2 linked regions of the Homo sapiens genome follow. The protein of the gene in region 2 interacts with the protein of the main gene of each other region in a pairwise test. Each region holds a gene or a part of one and is shown on either strand. Other genes may lie near its edges.

Region 1 (3,750 bases), on a different chromosome or scaffold from region 2:
AATTGCCTTAAGCCAATTGACTTCAGTATGCCCAGCACACTCACAGAAAACATGCATCAAAAAAGGGGCTGCATTAAACATGGGCCCTACTGGCAGAATGACCAGTTTAGGTATAATTTCCCTTAAAAAGCTCATGGAAAAATTCAGACTTGATTGACAATATTCTTTTATATTCATTCCAAGTATAGGCCACATGCCATTCAGACTTTGCAGACTGTTGAGCAGAGGATAAGAACTCTAGTAATGCTGTTATTGTAGGACTTCCGGCTATCCATTATCTGTATATACCAGTAACTTCCCTCTAACATCGAAAGCAAGCTTCAGAGAAAAGAAAAAGGCCTAGGAATCCTCTAAAGAGTTTTCCAAACAGCTTCACCTGTTCCATTGACAGAAAAATCTCAGGCAGCACTTAAAGCAGTGACAGCAATGAGGCAAGAGCTTAATGATAGCTATCATTATCAGCATGATTATTTCCATAGTCCCAGATCAGTCTTAAGAGGCGGCAAACAATCAGGTGATATAGTTTCAGGGCTAGATAAAGGCTGTCCCCTACCCTCAAATAATACTTCTACTACGGTTGCTGGTGCTCGAATTTTCACCCCCAGAAAAGAATTCCTTTGGCTTTAGGCTCAGTTTGTGAAAATGCAAAGTCAAGATTGATGGAATTTTAAACTTATTTACATCAAGATCACCCAAATTTGTTAGATATCTTCAAGGCAAGTTTGCTAAGGAAAGGAAAGGGAGGATGTGAGGGCATAAAAACAATCTTAGGGCAAAAATGGATAAATGAGGAGCCAGTTTTCCAGTGAGACAGACCCAATTATGCAAACAAGGGAGTGGGCTCCAGGGTCAATATTAATTCGCAAATTAGTGGCCAGTACCAATTTAGCACCATCGCTCATCTCCTTCTCAAAATCATCTATGATATAGCGGTGATGCTGCTTTATTTACAGGGCAACTAACCGAAAGGTCAGGACAACGAGTTTGCAATTTACAGTCTCTGGACAGGGTTGAAAGTCAGTTTTTTTTTGTTTTTTTTTTTTTTTTGAGATGGAGTCTTGCGCTGTCGCCCAGGCTGGAGTGCAATGGCAAGATCTCAGCTCATTGCAACATCCACATCCCGGGTTCAAGCGATTCTCCTGTCTCAGTCTCCCGAGTAGCTGGGACTACAGGCGCGTGCCACCACGTCCGGCTAATTTTTGCATTTTTAGTAGAGACGGAGTTTCACCATATTGGCCAGGCTGGTCTCGAACTCCTGACCTCGTGATCCACCCGCCTTGGCCTCCCAAAGTGCTGGGAATACAGGCGTATAAACTGTACTGAGCCACTGCGCCCGGCCGAGAGTCAGTTTTTACAAGCACTCAGATGTGGGCCCGAAAACAAATCAAAACAAAAGTCGTGACTTCCCAGATCTTAGGTAAGGCATAGATTCGTCTGCAAGGAGGGCCGAAATCTCTACCTATCAGGCAAAAGGCAAAAAGCCCGGAAGGGTCGGGGAGAAGCAAGCTGGAAGGCTCCAGGAAGTGGGTGGGGAGGAAGCTGCCGGGGTTGGAGCCAACCCTAGCAACAGCAGGTTTGCACACGCCTAGCAGAGGAAGTCCCGGGCCTAAGCGTGCAGCGGTCACAAGAGCTTTTGGCAGTGCTGTCCCCTTCGATTCCGGTCATCACCCAACCATCCAGCCCGGGTTTGGGGCGGAAAACCGGCTTGTAAAGTGGGCGGCGGCCGGTGTTCCCACAGCTGAGTCACAGCCCAGCCAACTTTTACAGCGTTTCCCAGAAAGAAAATACAAAGTCTCAGTCCCGGAGCCCACCGCTTCTAATTCCCGCTCCCCTGTGTCACCTGACCCGGGGTAACTCCAGCCCCACTACTGAGATATTTCCCACTCATGGCGCAACTTCTTGCCTGCGCAAAGCCTCGTGGTACCCCGAGCGCTCTCCAAGTGCTACCAACCCCACAGATGAGAGGGCAGGAGAGAGGGGAAGGGCTGCGTCCTCACCTGCAGGACACGGACACCTCCACCCGCGTGGCCGGGATGGCAGCGCTCAGCTGGTTCAAGTCCCCGATGCCCGCAGTGCTGTTGTAGCGGCTGTCCATATTGGGAGGAGGCGCCTTGGACTTGTCCGGCGCCCACAACCACAGCTCGGGCGGACTGAGGGCTAGCTCCCGTCAGGCGGGGATGGGGGTTGAGGGTGGAGGCAGAAGAAGGAGGCGGAGGCAGCGCGCGGGATGGGGGAGGGAAGGGAGGAGGCGGACCTCCGCGCAGAGCCACGAGGGAACCGCTAGCCAGTCCTGGGTGAAACTGACGCTGCCAGGCAAGTGGCGCGCGGGGATCCCGGTTTCCCAGCCCCCTTCCGGCAGGCAGCAGCCCGGGCGGGGGACACACTCCGTGATCCCCTCCTGGCTGGAGGGGTCAGGCTTGGTGGACCCAGCAAGCAGCCTGATGGAGAAGGTGGCACCAGACGCAGACCCCTACCGTCCAGGACCGCAAGCCCTCGCCGGCTCTGCGTGCTTTTAGGTTTTGTCTCCACCTCTGCACACCCACACTCGCCTCCTGGGCCGCGACAGCTTCCTTCTGTCAATCAGGTGTGGACGGGAAGGTCTCGAAGTTTCCTCGCCTGAGTTGAAAGCTGGAGGTGGGGGCACCTCTGCCCGTTCCTAACTGCCCCGTTATAAGGTCCCCCTCCCCACAATTGGTTCTCACCTCGCCCTCGGAGCTCTTGGGAGATCCCTCCGTCCCTCCTACTGTGCCCTCGGGCAGATGAGTCTGGTCCCAGCTTCTGGACTGCCCACTGTCGGCCACTTGAGAGTTGGGGACGGTGGGGCATTGTGACGCTCTCCAACCTTGGAACACGGTGGCAAAGTGGCCGATCAATATATGGGACAAGTGGGGGCGGGGGGGCGGACTCTAAGGTGGAAAAAACAATACTACTTGGGATTTAAGGAAGCAATCTGGATTCTGTCTCCCCTTGGTTCTTCGGAGCTTAGAGGTCTAACGGCGACATTCCTCCTACAGTAAGGGCTCTTCTGGGTCCCTCGTTTCCAAAGGCATGAAAGTTCTGACCTGAAAATGGGGGCCGGGGAGGGTGATGTCACAACCATATAACGCAGCTCCTTCAGCCGACTCCCACCCGCAAGAACTGAGACCTGACGGATAAAAGCAGAGAGGAGTCAGAGTGAGCGCTGCGTTTGGGAAACTGCATTCCAGGGCAGCAAGACTGGTGCCAAGACGGAGTCGTGGCAAAAGCATCCGGAGGTAGACGAGGCGCCCCTCCACTGCAGGGACCTTTGTTCCCCGCGCCTTCCCTCCTGCCTCACCCGAGCGCCTGCGGGTCCCGGGAGCTCGCCACCAGGCGGCGACGGAGAACAGGATGCGGCGCAGCTGGAAGGCAGAGGGTGGAGAGGGGGCGGGTGTCCGTCCGATTTAACGCTCCAAGCACGGAGTTTCCAGCTGGTTGGGCTAAGTCTGGGAGGAGCAGTTTTTGCGGTGGAGGACTTGCCTTGCGTTGTAACATTTTAATCCACTTGCAGCCTCCTGCCTAGAGAATCTATAGAGGCGGGTGAGAGTGTGTAGGTGCAGTCTTGCCGATTCCCCTGCCGAGTGTACTTCCCCTGTTTCTTCTTGCTTTCCTTTCCTGATTTCCCCACCCACCGCTTTTTCTTCTTTTTTTTTCCTTCCTCTTGTCCTATTACAAATTAAACTGTAGTTTACTGCGATTTGGAAATGCCCTAAAACCCCAGGCATTTCTATT
Region 2 (3,750 bases):
TGGGTGATGGAATCATTTGTACCCCAAATCTCGCCATCATGTGATACACCCACGTAACAAACCTGCACATATTCCTCCTGAATCTAAAATAAAACTTTAAGTTATAAAAAGAAAAGAAATAGGGTTTGCTGATGTAATCCCATTAAGATAAAATATAACTGGATTGGGTGGTCCCTAAGTCCAATGACTGGGCATCTTACAAGGAGAGAAATTCAGAGATGCAGAGATAGAGGATAGAGACCACATGATCAAAGAGTCAGGTATTGGCGTGGTGCAGCTGAAAGCCAAGGATGCCAAAGTACTGACAGGTGCCATCAGAAGCAAGAGAGGAAGTATGATACAGTTCCCCCTCTGGAGCCTTCCCAGGGAGCATCATCCTGCTAGCAGCTTGATTTCGCCCTTCTCACCTCCAGAACTGTGGAGGGTACATTCTATTGTGATAGTTTGTTAGAGCAGCCCTAGGAAACTAATACAATATATAACCTGGAAAGAACCAACACCCAGGAAAGTAGTTTTCAGAGACTTAGGGAAACTGGGTCCAGATAGCACTCCTTGAGTCTCTGATTAAGTAATCTTGATGAGATGATCTCTGCTTTTTCATTACAGGAGCCAATACATTATTTTTTAAAACAATCTTAAAACAGTTTGCATTATTTTTCCTGCTAGCTGCAATGAAGTTAACCCTGATAGATATGCTAATAGAAAATAATCTGGATAACATACTACAGAGCTATGTTATATACAGTACCAAAGAGGATGCCCCACTAGCACATTGCAAAGACAAACTTTAATTGCTTGGAAGGGGCCCTTGAGGATGACTTTTTTTCCCTAAGTAACTTGTAGTTATAGTTAAATAACCAGAGCTACTCTTATATTTAGATCGTCACTTCTTGCTGGCCAGCTTGAAACATGAGCAATCATTTTTATTCCCAAGTTGTCTGTTTTACTGCTTTCTACTATAAAAACATTATCCTCCTTTCATTCTGCCAACTTCACGGAAATGAGGTATAGATAAATCTAATCATTGCCACAATGTGTTTTAAGATACTAGTATTACTATTAAAGATCTCACCAATGAAACTGTTCCAGCAACAGGTAGGTATCACCTAGACTCGCATGCAGAAGAAGATGGTCCTCCTTTTTTACTAAATTGATGTAATTACTGCAGGAGGACTGCTTTCAATAGTAAGAGTTATGCTTAAAGCAAAATGAGACCCAGATTATTTTTCCTCCAGAGTTAATTGCTAGAGGGGATTTTGAGGATTCATTCCCTTATCACAACCAGCTTCTTCCTGTCCTCTGCAACCATGGAGCCCCAGCTGAGAGTCAGGGAGACATGAAACGCATCCTATTTCTTACTTTTGGTTCATTCTAAGATTCTATTTCAAGCTGTATTTTGTCCTCAGGATTTTGAAGTAACTAGAATAGAATAATCACACACCACAGAGTTGGACCCAGGACTTCTGTTCATTTCATTTCATAAAGAACAATCTCAAGTAGCATTTAGCCTCTGAAAGATGAAATAAAAACAGCAGCTTTTGTTATTAAGACAGTTCTTATAATTAAATATGAACAGAACTGTCTCTGCTGCAAATTTTGCCTCTGATCCCACAGACTAATAAAAAATGTACTCCGGATGAGAATCAAGTTCATTACGTTATGGTACCAGAATAATCTGTGTCAGCCGATCTTAAGGTTGCTACCACTGGATAGATGGTAAATAAATTTAAATATTATGGTCAGGCTTAAAATTTGAAGACAGGCAATACTGTGTTTTCGCTACAATTCAAAGATTATCAAATAGATTCCTTTATTTCAAAAATATTCTTTGATGGCCTCAACTAAAATTCCTTATTCATCACTTTAAGTTATTGAAGGCAGGTGTTAAAATGTAAATGTTATCTTTGAAACATTAAAAGATGGACACAATCATAATTTACTGAACTAATATTTCTAAGTGCCTCCTACCATGAATCAGGTTAAGATTTGATAATGAGGTGAAATAGTCCCTTGGTAGATTCCTGAGAAACTAGAATATAAGACAGGGACTCAGGACTAATCCAGAACATGGAGTCCCACCACACAGGGTCGGCAGGAGTCTCTCCCATTAGAATGCCTGGTGTTGCCCAGGTGTCGCAATCATTAGACTGCCTGGGGTCAGATGGGAGTCTCTCCCATTACCAGGGTGGGTGGGCCCAGACTTCCAGCAGGTAGTTTTACTACCAGGCCACTGGTTGCCCTGAAACTGGATAAGGGGAAGCAGGCACTGAAAGATGGATGGAGAGAAGGAATCAGTGCACATATTTTCATCTTCTCAATTTTGCCTAGGGTAGGCCCAGTGTGGGAAAACAATTTTTAATGTATGATAACAGTAAGACTAAGTGTATTTTTAAATACTTTTTTAAAAATTTTTTAAGTTCCGGGGTACATGTACAGGATGTGCAGGGTTGTTACATAGGTAAACGTGTGCTATGGTGGTTTGCTGCACCTATCAATCCATCACCTAGGTATTAAGCCCAGCATGCATTAAATTTTTTTTTCCTAATTTCTGCTGTTTCCTATAACTACAAGAGTGACATTTGCCTTGCCAATGAGGGTAGACAATGATGGGGTTAACTGCCATCCTCTGAACTGGACAATCTCACTCAAATGAGCAAGTGTGTGTGTGTGTGTGTGTGTGTGTGTGTGTGAGAGAGATGAGGTGAGATGGGAGGTGTGTGGCTATAACAGAGTTCAGTCACAGAACCATTGCATCTGGAAGACTCATTCGGCTTCGACATTCCTCTGTGCATCTCACACATCATACAAATGAGCATATATGGGGCTTCAGAATTAAGTGTCCTTGTGAAAAGAAACTATTTCTTGTTTTCACCAAGTTCCTGACCATCTATGCTCTGTATCTTGCATTCAGAGTGTACATGAGTGTGCATGCTTAGACGAAGGAAGGAAGGGAAGACAAGCAGTAAAGTCATTCATCCCCCTCACAACTTTCCAGCCTCTTTCCCTCTTTAGCAGTGAAGTGGGGAACAGTCACTTCCCTTCCAGTTAAAAATCAAAGGAAAACTGATGGGAAAGGAAAGTGGCATTGGGTGGATGAAGTTGCTACTAATTTCGTTTGGGAATTTCTCTTGCTTTTGGGGATGAGTTGAAGGTTTGTTTTTCTCCCTTTTCACAGTAGCGGAGTTGATTAATGTAATGACTCAAAAGAGGAGACACATGCTACATAGACTAGTATTCCAAACTAGAGTTCCTCTTCTGTTAACTGGATTGCAGCAACTGGGGAAATGATAGTCCATTGGTGTAAAAGGAAAAGCAATAGTAATCCCTGTGGTCCTATGTGTTGCCAGGACCCAGTTGAGTCCCTCTCCTGTGGCTGGCAGGCATGCCATATGCAAATGCTTGCTCCAGCCTCAATGCACTGGCATACCTTGGCACCAGTGCTAGGTTTTCTAAGCCTCCCATCAGTATTCAAGAGTATTTATGATGAACCGATACTTAATTCTGTCATATTCTAGCAAGACAATTCTATAAATTAGATTCATGAAGAAATAGTCCCTGCATCAGTTTGTGGATTTAGCTACTGTTACTGTTATTTAATACACTCAGTGTGCAGCACTGAAATAACCATAATACTTCAAATTTATGCAATACTTTTTGCTTTGTTTCCATTTTCCCTTATTTCATACTCACAACAGCCTAAGGAAGTATCATAGTGATTACTATTGCTGATTTGGAGAGGATACTGAAGGA

What was found. The genes of interacting proteins can lie anywhere in the genome.
Region 1: the proteins of NECAB1 (region 2) and CPNE8 interact in binary tests that used the Homo sapiens proteins (3 or more experiments, as listed by UniProt).

The regions. Positions count from the first base shown.
Region 1 is NC_000012.12:38,903,440-38,907,189, forward strand, and holds the start of CPNE8 (copine-8), read right to left. Parts: upstream 2,153-3,750; 5' UTR 2,096-2,152; coding exon 1,998-2,095; intron 1-1,997. UniProt on the Homo sapiens protein: Probable calcium-dependent phospholipid-binding protein that may play a role in calcium-mediated intracellular processes.
Region 2 is NC_000008.11:90,794,649-90,798,398, reverse strand, and holds part of NECAB1 (N-terminal EF-hand calcium-binding protein 1), read right to left. Parts: intron 1-3,750.